Regions from separate parts of the Homo sapiens genome. Here region 1 is linked to region 2. Evidence: fine-mapped expression QTL. Tissue or cell type: visceral fat. Region 2 holds a variant in brackets; the other region holds the start of a gene. All regions are shown on one strand. Distances are from middle to middle.

Evidence for each region. PIP is the estimated chance that this variant, and not a neighbour inherited with it, causes the effect.
Region 1: SLC29A3 starts here. The variant in region 2 is fine-mapped to the expression of SLC29A3 in visceral fat (GTEx, PIP 0.98).

What each region holds. Positions count from the first base shown.
Region 1 is chr10:71,317,290-71,322,478 of GRCh38, reverse strand. SLC29A3 (solute carrier family 29 member 3) reads right to left here and starts at 3,220. Exons shown (of 6, transcript NM_018344.6): 1 at 3,169-3,220. The coding sequence starts at 3,169. It overlaps LOC124902445 (a long non-coding RNA gene), which reads left to right and starts at 2,816. Exons shown (of 2, transcript XR_007062183.1): 1 at 2,816-2,917; 2 at 3,575-4,510. RefSeq lists a silencer at 2,974-3,423.
Region 2 is chr10:70,910,045-70,917,896 of GRCh38, reverse strand. No RefSeq gene overlaps it. Among named protein-coding and RNA genes, the nearest start is that of LINC02622, 25 kb to the left of the region's middle. RefSeq lists a silencer at 1-161. The variant A/G (reference allele first, on the strand shown) is at 3,575.

The DNA.
Region 1 (5,189 bases), 410 kb before region 2:
ACAGGCTGGGTTTTGTAAAACACTGCATGATAGTGGGGACTGTGGCAATGTACCCAGAAAGGCAAACCTGGTCTAAGGGCATTCACAGTTCTGTGCAGCCATAAAAAAGAATTAGGACCCTTAATGGGCAAAGAATGATCTCTAAACCCTTTTCGATTTCAGGTGAAAGAAATAAGGAGCAGGATGGTGTGTAGAATATGCTACTATGTGTGTAAAAAAAGTGGGGAGAGAAAATATACATACACATATGTATTTGTATATGCACAGAATATCTCTGGAAGGCTACATAAGAAGTTTCTAACAGTGGCTGTCTCTAAGGAGGGAAACTGGGATGGTGGGGGGCGGGGAGGGGGACTTCCCTGCATTCTTATTTGTGTCTCTTGAATTTTGAACTATGTGACTAGTTTATTACCGGTTCAAAAACAAAATTAAAAGTGTAAATTTAAAAAAATTCAAATTAAGTAATAATTGTTTAAAAAACTGGTAGTGTCCAGGGCTGCCTCCAGAAGCTGGTGTGTAGCCTCTGACAGTCCATTCCCATTTCATTTGTGAGGAAAGAGAGGTCCAAAGAACTGAAGGCCATAGGCCACGTAAATGGCCAAGCCTGGGTTTGCAGCTCCTGCCTGGGTCCCACCTCTGCTCATCACACCCTACAAGGAGCCAGCCACTTTCAATCTATGGTAGCGCCTAAGATAAATGGAAGAGCCTAGGCTGCCAGCAACTATTGCCTACATGGCCTTGGGCAAGTTACCACATTTCTGTGCCTCAATTTCCCCAAATGTAAACCCAGAGAAGCTGTTTTTATGATAGTTATGCAACTGCAACTGGCTGGCAATGCCTGGCCTATAAGCAGCTGTTGAACAAATGTCAGCATCTCCCTGGCATCCTGGGCCTGTCGCATGGCTGGCTGGCTGGCTGCTGAATTTGGCTGTAAGGTAGCATGCCTGCTTCTTTGCTCTACATAGCACCTAGGATGTGGCAGCAGCTTGATAAATGAGAAATGTCTCCAAAATGCTGAGGATGGGACACTTCAGAGTCCCTTCTGCAGTAGCCTCTTCCCCACCCAATAAACTAATAAATAAATGCATCTTGGTTTCTATAGGAGGCTAAGCCTAACTCAAAGCATCGTACCAAGAAGACTGGGGCCTTTATTCCCTGGTGGGATGGGAACACCTCCTCACATGGGTGCAGAACCTTATCCACTATTTCAGGAGAACCTCAGAGCATCCCTTGGAATTAGGCAGGGCAGAAAACATTGCCCCCTTTTTTCAGATGGAAAAACTGAGGTCTGGAAGGCACTTGCTATGTCCCACAAATAGAAAGAACTCCCAATAGCTAAACTTAAGTCCAGTGATCACAAATGCCAAGGTCTGTGCCTAACAGAGGTCACACTTGAGGCTGACAACAGCCTAATATATTAGGTACTACTCTAAGACCCATTTCACAGAGGGGTCTGAGGCTCAGAAAGGTTGAGTAACTTGCCCAGGGTCACATAACTAGTAGATGACAAGAGTGAAGTTACACAGCCAAGCAGACTGGGGCCCATGCTGGACTCCTCAGCACACCGGGGAGGACTGGCTGGGAATGGGAATCTGTGTCTGCTGGTTCCAAGTACAGGCATCCTTCCTGCAAGCCTTGAAGCCAGTGAGTCGGGAGGGGCCCAGGCACACTGCAGGCACCCTTGTCAATGTTTGCTGAATGAACGGACTCTGCACGACCAGGACATTCTCCCCTGCTGGGGTAGCATGTACCCTGGAGCCAGCAGGTGGGGGGCCACTGGATGCCCAAGTGCAATGCATCCAGCCAGCAAGTCTATTTTAAACTCCCCTGGTTAGCAGAGCCCCTCCCCAGCCTGGATTCGCATGGAGGCCAGCATTAACAAGCTCACTGTCTGGAAGCTCACTGTGTGGAAAATCGCTTTTTCCACATGCACCCACTCATAGAGGAAAAGCCATGTGAAGGCACAGCAAGAAGGAGGCTGTCTGCAAGCCAGGAAGAGAGCCCTCATCAGAAACCAAATCAACCAGCACCTTGATCTTGCCCTTCCCAGCCTCCAGATCCATGAGAAACAAATTTTGTTTAAGCCACCCAGTCTATGCTATTTTGTCTGGCACAAAATGGTACAAATGTAACAAGCTCACTTGTTACATTTTAAAAATTAGTGTTTAAAATGTAAAAAATAATCATGACCCACCCACATAGAACAAGAGAGAACCGGCAAGTGGTTCTTTCCAGAGGCTCCAGCTACCTGTGGGGGCGGCTAGAAGGTCCACCAGCCCTGTCACTCAGGACCACACCTGGCTAGGGCCCCCTTCTCAGTTCCTAGCGTCTATTTGTCAAGGCTTGACTGAGCTTCTGAAGAAGGAGCCAGGAATTTTCTCTAACCAGGGTCACAGGCCAGGGCACTGGAGTGAGCAAAGTCTTATTAGTCTTTATAAAAGCTAGCTGCTGGCTTCTGGATTAAAAAATAAAGAGAAAGGCAGGCAAGGAAGTGCCCAACCTTCCCCAAAACAAGCTGGCTGTGGCCTGGAACGTGCTCCTGGGTCACCTGCGGGAGCCCGGCCATGCACAGACAGACAGCCCCACACAAGGAGGCAGGCACTGCTGGGGCCGCGGCAAAACCTCATCTGGGCTGGGAAGCCTGGGTGCTGGTTCCAAGGAGGTTCCTGACTCTGGCTAGGTGGCTCGCCCCTCTGTGCCTCGATCTCCTGGGCTGTGAACCGGGGTGGGGAGCTGGTAGGGCTAACCTGTGGGAAGGCACTGGGAAGCGCAGGGCACCGCCTACTGGCCGCGGCAGAACCGGCTTTGCGGTGTAAACAGCCCCAGCCTCAGGCCCCGCAGCTGGGACCGAGAGAATCAGCCACCGTCTGGATACTTCGGGCCGACGGGTCCATACCAGGCCCCCACCATACAGGCGGTGAGGTCCAGTCTCAGGGAGGAGGAGGGGAGAGGATTTGGGGAAGAGAAGATAGAGACCCAGAAAGAGGGGTGGCAGAGAGCAAGGAGAGAGAGGAGGGACGGTGGGGAAGGGACCACGGATGGGGTAGGGTCCTGCGGCTCCCCTGGCAGCCCGCAGCCGCCCCCAGGGCCCGGGAGGGAGGTCGCTGAGCGCGAGTCTGGGGGCGGCCGGGACCGTAGCCGGAAGAGCCCGAGCCGGCCCGCACTTACTGTCGCCGCTGCGCCACGCCGCCGCTGCCTCCGGCGCACGGCCAGGACCACTGGGCTTGGCAGGCGGCAGGCGGGCTCCTCCCCCGGCCCCGCCCCGCCCCTCGCGGCAGCACGCCGCCGCTTCCCCGTTTGCAAACACGCTTTTTTCCTTTGTCTTCTGCCGGCGCGCCGGGGCTCCCCCTTCTGGCGCTGAGCTGGGGCCTGCGTGCGCCCATTTTATAGGAGAAAAAGTGAGTCACCCAGTCTTAAACGCACTGCCCATGCTTGCGATGGGTGCGCTGCGCATCAGGCCTTTTGGTTGCTGCTCCTTCTTTACCTTGGAGCCAGACCCCACTGTCTCAGACCTCCCCTTTAGCTACTATAACCTGCACCCCAGGACTCAAAGGAGCCCTCATCTTGTCCCCAGGCCGCTGCAGAGACCCCTCTCCAAAGGCCGCTTCTACCCTTACCGGCTGCCGCTGCTCTGGAGGTGAAGCGGGACCCACACCCGGACTGAACTGGGCCTCCCAGGCCAGGCAGCTATTTTCAGTAGACCCAGAACATGGCAGTCAGCAATTCCAGCCCTCACACTTGACCTCAGCCATAGCGTGTAACACACAGCTGCCGCGTGTTCTTTAAGAAAGCAGGGGCCGGGCGCGGTGGCTCACGCCTGTAATCCCAGCACTTTGGGAGGCCGAAGCAGGCGGATCACCTGAGGTCGGGAGTTTGAGACCAGCCTGGCCAACATGGCGAAACCTCGTCTCTACTGAAAATACAAAAGTAGCCGGGCATGGTGGTGCGTGCCAGTGATCCCAGCTATGTGGGAGGCTGAGGCAGGAGAATCGCTTGAACCCGGGAGGCGGAGATTTCAGTGAACCGAGATGGTGCCACTGCACTCCAGCCTGGAGCCTGGGCGACAGAGCAAGACTCCATCTCAAAAAAAAAAAAAAAAAAAAAAAGGCGGAAACCTTCCTGACTCCCGGTCCTGGCCCAGTTGGCCTATTCAGAGCGGGGATCTGGATGCTTCACAGGGCCTGAAGATCTGTGACCATGGATAGTAAATTCTTGCAGTTGCCATCCCAGGGCTCAGGGGTGCCACAGAACCCATTGAGGCTGTCAGTGTGTGGACAGGTTCTCAGAACATCCCCACTCCCTGCCCCAGCCTCTCATTTTATAACCACCATTCCCCAAACACTGGCCTGATCATAAAAGTCTCGAGTACACATCCAGATTCTGGGGACCTCTCCCCAGGAGGGTTGCTGCCACTCCCCAATCCCTGAGGGTGGTGCTGTATCTGCTTTGTTTGCTCTTCCCTCATCGTGGGCACATAATTTGTGTTCAATAAATACCTGGATTAATACAACCCATCACTCAGGGGGTGCAGAATGGGGATCCAGAATGGATCTATTTAACAAGCTCCACCAGCAGGCGAGTTTGGAGACTAGCACCCTAAATTGTCAGAAAGCCCCCCGGCCCAGGAGAGGAAGGGGCTTAGCTCCAGGCTTACAAGCTGAGGGATAATGGTAAAATTACTAAACCTCTCTGAAACCCAGGGTCGGCTTAGGACTGTCGGGAGAATTAAGTCAGGTGATCCATGCCAGGCACTCAATGCAAATTTCCATCACTTCCAAGGAAGACACTCCCCACCCCCAAAATGTGATAGTGTATATGTTAGTTTAGTCATCAGGCCTTATTTTTAGCCTCTTTACGTTGGAAAAAAATCCTCTAATATACAGAGCATTTTCATGAACAGTCTCCCATTTGATTCCACCCCCCCACCCCAGTACCCAGTGAAATGGGACTGTTGTCCCCATTTTACAGATGAGGAAAGCCAGGCTCAAAGAGGTCAAGTGGCTTCCCAGGGCACACAGCTGGCAGTGATGGAGTGGCAGAACCCAGAGCCAAGGCTCTTTTTGTCATGCCCGGTTACAGGCAGGCAGGTGAGGCTGAGGGGAGCTGGGACAGCACGAGGGACAAAGCCGTAGGATTCAGTGAGGGCAGCAGATCAGGGCTATTTCTGGTCCAGCCCCAAGACCATGACC
Region 2 (7,852 bases):
GGCATCTGGAGATGCCAGGCAAGAGTGGGCACGGTAAAGTACACCATGGGCCTCCGGAACTTCGGCTCTGTTGTTGAGGACAAAAGAGCAGCCTTCCCAGAGCACTGGGCAGGGCACTCGCAGGAGTGGGAACAGCTGGGGTGGGCCCCGGACTGGTGGGGCCAGAGAGAGGGGGCGGGGCAGACTGAGAACCACGGCTCCCAAGACCCTCTGCCTGCTGTCCACTGAGGCCCTCTCTCCCTGGCAGAGGCACTGGGCTATGATTAAGCCATCACTGCCACTGTGATGGCACTTCTGATAGAATCCAAGAGGGATGGAGGAACAAAGTTCACGGGAATCACAGGTCCTTAAATCAGGCTGCCTCCACAGTCAGCGGCCTCCATGGGTCTTTAATGCTAGCCAGCCAGGTGCCCTGTGGATGCTCCTCAGGCTGAGGAGGGGGGCACTGTTTACAGCCCCTGCTTAATTAAATCAATAAACCACCAATGCAAATCTGTCAGAGGGCCAGCTCTTTACAATGCACCATGCGGAGGGGAGGCTGGATTAACAGCTGCTGCAAGAGGACAAGAGGAGGGGAGACGGAGAGACTGAGGAGGAAGAGGAGGGAGAGGAGGAGGGCCAATCTGGGAGCGGGGCTCAGAAGAAGTTGAGTGTCCAGGCCCCCAGACTCCCTCTCTGGACTACATCACAACCCATCCCTGCAACACCTAGAAGCGTACCATTTCCTCTTTCAGGGGCTCCTTTCCCCCTCCTGCCAACATGGCTGCAGGAAAGGCTCTGCTATCAGTCATTTACACTACAGTGAGAACTTGAGGCTAGGTGAGACTGCAGAGATTCAGTGCCATGCTGGCCCAGGGAAGGCTACTGGAGCATCCAGCCAGGTCTCCTTTCCAGTGTTTTCGGGCCTGAGCAGGATGGAGCTCCAGCAAGGACCCAGATACACGGCCACAGCTCTCCCTCTGTTCTGCATTCTGGGAAGACTGGGGGAGAACTGGTTGTCAGGAAGCCTGTCCATTAAGGGAAGCTGTGTGGTCTGGGACCAGCCCCTGACCTTCTCTGGGACTCATTTTCTCCGTCTGGATCACCAGGGGCTCAGAATCTGCAACCTGTAAGTGACTTTCTAGCTCAGACACTCTCTGCATTGGGCTCCCCTAAGGGGAGAAGCATCTCCTTGATAAGCCTGGGGCCCAACCTGAGCCAGGGTCATGGCCAGCCCATGTTTGGGGCCAGAGTCACTACAGCCACTGGCAACCTGCTGGATGGGACCTGGGGTCCAGCCATGAACCCCTTGCTCCCTCCATGTTCCCATCTGTAAAATGGGAATAATGAAAGGCATGGATACCCCACATGGGAGTAAAGTGCACTAATGAATGCTCTCAGAGCCTCGGATGAAAAAAGGAGGAGCCTCTGCAGGGCCGGGGGCATGGGGAGGCAGCATCGGGACCCCTGCTCCACCTGGACTGCCAGACACCCTTCAGGCATGGAAGCTACACTTTGACCGCCAGTCTCTCATAGAGCCTTCCCAGTACTCCCTCTGGGGCCGTGAGAAAATGCCTTCCCCTTCCGAGCCCCAGGTCCCTTCCCTGTAAATGGCTCTGAAACTCTATGACTCAGTTTCCCCATGGAAAGTGACAGCATCTTATGCTCTGCCCCTCCATCTGACTCAGGTCTACGGAGCCTTATGTGTGCCCAGCGTGATGAGGGGCACAGAGGAAGCATGAGGCTGGGCGCCTGCCGTCAGGGGACTACGTATCCCCTGAGCAGACAGGGGGTAAAGAGATGAGAGAAGTTTTGCGTGCACAAAGGGTATGAACAATGGCCACATGGCCCAGAAGCCTCAGCAAGGAAAGTAAACATAAGCCACCCCAGCCTCCCTCTCCCTGACCCGGATAGACATCGCCCATCCATGCTACTCTTTCCGGCTGAGCCTGAATGCGGCCTCTGTCAGGTGCTCCAGGCAGCAACCAGCCTGATCACCAAAGTTAGCAAGCAAAAGCTGCTCACCTGCTCTCAGAGGTCTAAGGGTTATGCTAGGACAACCACAGGAGGCTTCCTGGAGGGAGAAGTCTTCACCTAGGCCTTGAAAGAAGAATCCAGATAGAGGGGAAAGAAGAATGTGTTCCAGGTGGCAGGAGCAGTGTGCATACATCTGGGGGATAAATTGGCACAGCACACTCAGGGACAGTGGGATCTGCTGAGATCCCACTGAGAGATGGTCAAGAGAGTAGGAGGCAGAGTGGGAGGTCGGGGGGTACCAAAACTCAGATGCCAGTTCCACTGGGGCGGTAGGTGCCTCTCCCCAATCCAGTTGATGGGACCTGTCAGCCTTCACCTTCTGCACCCACTCACCAGGCTGGGGAGGTCCTGGAGGGGTCTGGGGGTGAGTGAGGTGGTGCTGGCCATGGCTGTCCACCTCCTATGTGACAAGGAAATCGGCAACTTTGTTAAAATGACATGTTGCCGTCCGTTCTCAGAGTTGCAGGGTGGGTGCCCAGGATGCACAAACCATGTCCACTAGCCCAGCTCCCTGGGTGATTTACGGTGGTGGCCAGCCCAGTCTAGCCACTGACCCAGGGGCAGCCCACAGGGAGAGGTGTCCTCCAGTACTCACACCAGAGACCAAATGCAGAGCAGCCAGCTTAGACGCCAGCCCTTGCCAGGGGTTTCTGGAGCCTTAGGGTGCAGGAGATAGACAGGCCAAGGGCAGGTGGACCACCCAGCCCCTCTCCCTTCCCAACTGACTTCTGGGCAGAAGTTGGGGCCCCTCTCTGTAAGACCTGCAAATTACACCCACCCCTCCCATCTCTCCCCACTCACACTTTCCTTCAGAACCTATCTTAGCTTTCACTTCTGTCAGGGAGCCCACCAGGATTTACCCCTAAGACTCAACCAACTGCGAAAAGTGGCAGGAGACTTGTTCGTAATTCAGACCCAATGCTCATATGATGTGGGACTCGGGCAAGCCACCCCTCTACCCAGGCCTTGGTCTCCCCACCTGTCACTGAGGGAGTCAGACAAGCGGGTGTCTAAAGAACGTTTCCACTATTTCCGGATGGAAGAGTCTGGTTGCCTGGCTGGTCTAGGGCCACTGGGTCATCTAGAATCCATCACCCGGTCCTGTGGCAATCAGTGCGTGGCCCGGGTGCTGACCAGCAACCTGAGGCGGGTGAAAGGCCCAGAACCTCAGACACCACTGCCAGAGGAGCCTTCAATGACCATCACTCTCCCAAACCTCATCTTTCCCAGGTAGGCAATGGAGGCCCAGAGAGGGTGAGGACTTGTCCAAGGCCACACAGCAGCCACCCACAGCTGGGACTCACACCTTAGTCAGTGCTTGCTTGGTGATGTGGCTCACGGGTGCAAAGGCTCTTCTTGCTGTTCTATCTCTACCCCTCACTGGGAGCCCCCTCTGGAGGGACTTCACTGTGTCCTGATTGGGAAGGACACAGAAGAAACAGAAGAAATGGTCCCCGCCTGCCAAGAGCCTGCTGTAGAGGTGGGAGGAGGGATTCTGGTGGCAACGGGAGCCAGAGAGAGCAGCCCTCCCCGCTAACTTCCCACCCCACTGCCTGCC[A/G]TTGCCCCAGAGAGAAGTGATGCTTTAGGTTAAAATTGCCCCTTTAGGGGAAACTACAAAGTTATTTCCTGGCATTTCAGTATAAATGAATCTATCAAAAGTCCTTTTCTGAGACTGAAGGGGCTTGAAGTCAACTAAGGGACCCAAAGAGAAATGACCCTGCTTCCTCTGGGGGAGCAAAGTTCTCCCCACAGGCAGCGCTGTGGTCTCATGCTGGCTTACAGCTTATACCTGCATGCACACACACACCCCACAGCCAAGGCCAGAGTGGCAGCACCAACCTAGTGAAGACCTTCCCACTCTCACAGCAGGCTTTCTTAGGGGATGCGGGAGCCACCTGGCCCTAGAGGCACTCAAGCTAAGGCAGTGGAATGAGGCAGAGTGGACTTGTCCACCCCAGAGAGACTAAAAAACTTGACCATTCGCCCTCCTCCTCCTCCATTCACCTCAAGCCCTGCTGGCCTGAAATACAAGTCCACAGATGTCCCTTCCCTGCCCTGCTTTCAGCCCCTCCACTGGGGCACTGGCATTTGGAGGTGTTCTCTGAACGGCTCATCACCAAGCTCCAGGATTTCCAGAGCCCCCATGGATCAGGCCACAGCCAACTCTGCTGCTGGCCCTGGGCTGCAGGACTCCAGGGAAGCACTCACAGGGGTCACGAGTGGACATGGCCTTTGACCAGGAAAAAGACAGCCTGAAAGGTCCTCACCCAAAAGGAAGTCCCCCCACCTGCCCTGTGGAGAGGTGCTCAGGCAGCGCACAGGGGACCTGGCCTGCAAACTGTACCCCCAGAATCTCCCTCTCTCTCTCTCCCTCTCTCTCTCTCTCTGTCTCCCTCTCTCTCTCCATTTCCTGAGCTTGCACACTTCCTCTCCTGGCTCTCTGCCTCTCTAACTGTCTGGATTTCTCTCCATCTTTTTGTTTATTTGATTCATTCTCTGCCAGTCGCTTGGTGTCTCTCCCTCCGGGTCTGTCTGTATCTCTGACCTCCTCTCTTTCCGCCTCTACTCCTCTTTCTCTCTCTCTGTCTCTTCTTTCCCTCATTCACCCCCACCCCCACTCCACCACCTCCCATCTCCTCTCTCTCTCCCCACAACTCCCAGCCCTGCAGAGTTTCTCACTCTGGAAGCCAGTGCTGAATCGGTATTTCTGAGCTCCACTGCGAGCTGACAGGAATTCACTGTCTCCCCAGCAGACCCCTCCCAGAAAGCCTCCTCCACTATTTCCCCACAGTTCCACTTCTGGATTTGAAACATCTCCTGGGTGCTCAGCCCTGAGCCAGACCCTAAGGCAGGGAGGGAAGGGGAGGCAGCTTAGATGGTTGGGAAGAGCCGCTGGGCCAGGTACCATCCCGAGCACTTTCCATACATTAGCCGGGTCTTCCTCACATATCCAAGATGGGTTTCAACTTCCCCATTTTACATGCAAAGAAACTGATTCACAAAGATGTGAGGAGGCCACCCCAGCCACACTGCGGCTCAAACCCAGGTCTGTCTAACTCAAAAGCCCATGCACTTTCTTACCTCCACCTCATGGGCTGAGAAAGCCAGCCACCTGGGCCAGGTGCAGCCAGGATTCAAACCTCCAGCCCTCAAGGTGCATTCAGGCTGGTTCTGAGGCAGGAGATGCTCGTGAAGCAAAGACCACGGTGGGGACTATGCTACACTAAGGGCCAAGCAAGAAGCCCAGGCCCAGGGCAGGCTATTTAGGCTGGGGTCATGGAAACCTTCGAAGAGATATGGTTTGGCTGTGTCCCCACCCAAATCTCATCTTGAATTGTAGCTCCCATAATCCCCATGTGTGGTGGGAGGGACCCGGTGGGAGGTAATTAAATCATGGGGGCAGTTTCCCCCATGCTATTCTCGTGATAGCGAGTGAGTTCTCACGAGATCTGATGGTTTTATAAGGGGCTTCCTCCTTCACTCAGCTCTCATTCTGCTTGCTGTCGCCATGTGAAGAAGGGCATGTTTGCTTCCTTTTCCGTCATGATTGTAAGTTTCCTGAGGCCTCCCCAGCCATGCTGAACTGTGAGTCAATTAAACCTCTTTCCTTTATAAATTACCCCGTCTCAGGTATGTGTTTATTAACAGCGTGACAACAGACTAATACATGGGTCAAGAGGAGAAGGTCCCCCAGGAGGGCAAGGGAGTGAGTGAAAGCCTGAGGTGGGCCTAGGAGAACCAGGAGAGGCAGTTGAGCCAGGCTGAGGAGGCCCCAGCAATGTCAGTGGAGGGGTTTGGTCTGCAGGCTGGGGAGGCAGATGCTGAGACCCATTGCCCTCCCCTCAGAGGTCTGGGCTGCATATGGATGGCCCTTGGAGGCAGTGACCTCTGATTTGATTTGAGGTCACAGGAAATCACCCAGCCAGGTGAGAAGAGACCAGGAAGGACCATCATACAACCATGGTCCTGACTAGCTTGCTTCAGACCTACTGTGTGACTTCAGACAAGTTACTTACCCTCTCTGTACCTCTCTGTAGATTTAAGTGGTGGAGCCTGATAGAGTCTGAAGGCCCTCCTGCCCTGACATCCTTTCAATCCCACAAAGGGCCAGGAGGCTCTGGGAGAAGATGATCCAGATAAACCGAGATGGAGCTTTGGCCAGCAGGGATCTCAGGCAGGGGCCTAGACGAGCACACATTTGCCAACGGGGAGACCAAGGGCTGTGAGTGAAGCTGAGTCAGGCCCAAGGCTGTGTGGGAACTGAAGCCTTCCAAGCACTGCCCCCAAAAGCTCCTTCAAAGGCTGGACTTGGGGGTGCTGCCATGGGGGGGGTTCCACCTGTCTCCAGGCAGCATCTCCTGCCAGACATACCTGCCAGGGCTATGGGTGGTGCTGGGGCCCCTTGGCTCTCGGCAGGACTGTTCCTTCCTCAGGCTTAGTCATCTGGGGGTCCTCCAAGAAATATCTCTGAAGGATAAAGGGGGTACAGAGCAGGAATAGGCAGGAGAGCCTTCGGACCCTGGCATCCAGCTGTCACAGCTGCAAGGATGGGGGCAGAAAGGGAATTGGAAGAGCCTCAGCCAGCACCGCTCTAGGGATGCCTCAGCCAGGTGAGGCAGAGACCCAGGCAAAGACTCCCCCCGGAGGAGTCCCACATCTGCAAATGACCTCGCTGGCTCAGCCTCCAGCAGGGGCAGTCCGGGGAGAGGAAGTGTTGGGAGTGAGTACCACAGCGGCGCCTGCAGGTGCGGCAGCTGGGATGGTCAGTCACGTCCCTTGGGGTAGCTTCTCCTGAAGGGAGGCCTGAGAGGTGTCCTTCTGCGGCAGCCACTCTGACCTCTTGGGGCCAGAGTCCTTCCAGGTTGAACAGGTCTACCCCACATGCTGTGGGAGCACACCCAGGAATGTGAGCCTCCTCCAACACACTTAGCCCCGCTGAGGCAGCCCTGGCACAGCTCAGCAGCCTCATCTCCTCTCCAGGGACAGGCCCCAAGGCAGTGTTGCTGAAGGGCTGGGTGGCCTGGCCTTGAAGAGGACATGGGGTTCCCGGACCTGCCCCTAGCCTCAGGCACACCATCCTGCAGACCCCAGAAGGAGCCCCGAGACTCACCGCAGTGGACCGCAAGCAGTAGCCCACTCAGGGTCTCTGGTCAGCCCAGATCTCCCCAGCCTCAGCCTCCTGCGCCACATCTGCTGATGGCTCCCTCCTTAGGGAGTGGCACTGTCTGGATGTTGGGTCCCTCTAAATCTCACTGGAAATTTGATTCCCAGTGTGGGAAGTGGGGTCTGGTGGGAAGTGCTTGGATCATGGAGGCAGACCCCTCATGAATGGCTTAGTGCCATCCCCTTGGTGATGAGCGAGCTCTTGCTCAGTGAGTTCACCTGAGCCTGGTTGTTTAAGAGTCTGGGACCTCCCCTCTCTCTCGCTCCTGCTCTCACCCTATGATGCGCCTACTCCCCCTTTGCCTGCCATCATGACTGGAAGCTTCCTGAGGCCTCACCAGGAGCAGATGCCTGCACCATGCATCCTGTACAGCCTGCAGAACCGTGAGCCAATTAAACCTCTTTTCTTTATAAATTATCTAGTCTCAGGCATTTCTTTATAGAAAACAAAACGGCCTAACACAGGTAACACCCACCTGAGGTGAGGGGTAGCAGCAGGAGCACAGAGTCCCCCTGTCCCCACCCAGCTCTGGATGTTCTCCGCCCATAAGTCATCAAAGAGGGAGTGGGGGTGGAGGGATTGAGACTGTCTGGAGGTGGGTGGACAGAGGTGTTTAGCTGAACAACGGCCGCAGACATTCAGCTGTTCCTGACATAGCCCTCACCCATCAGC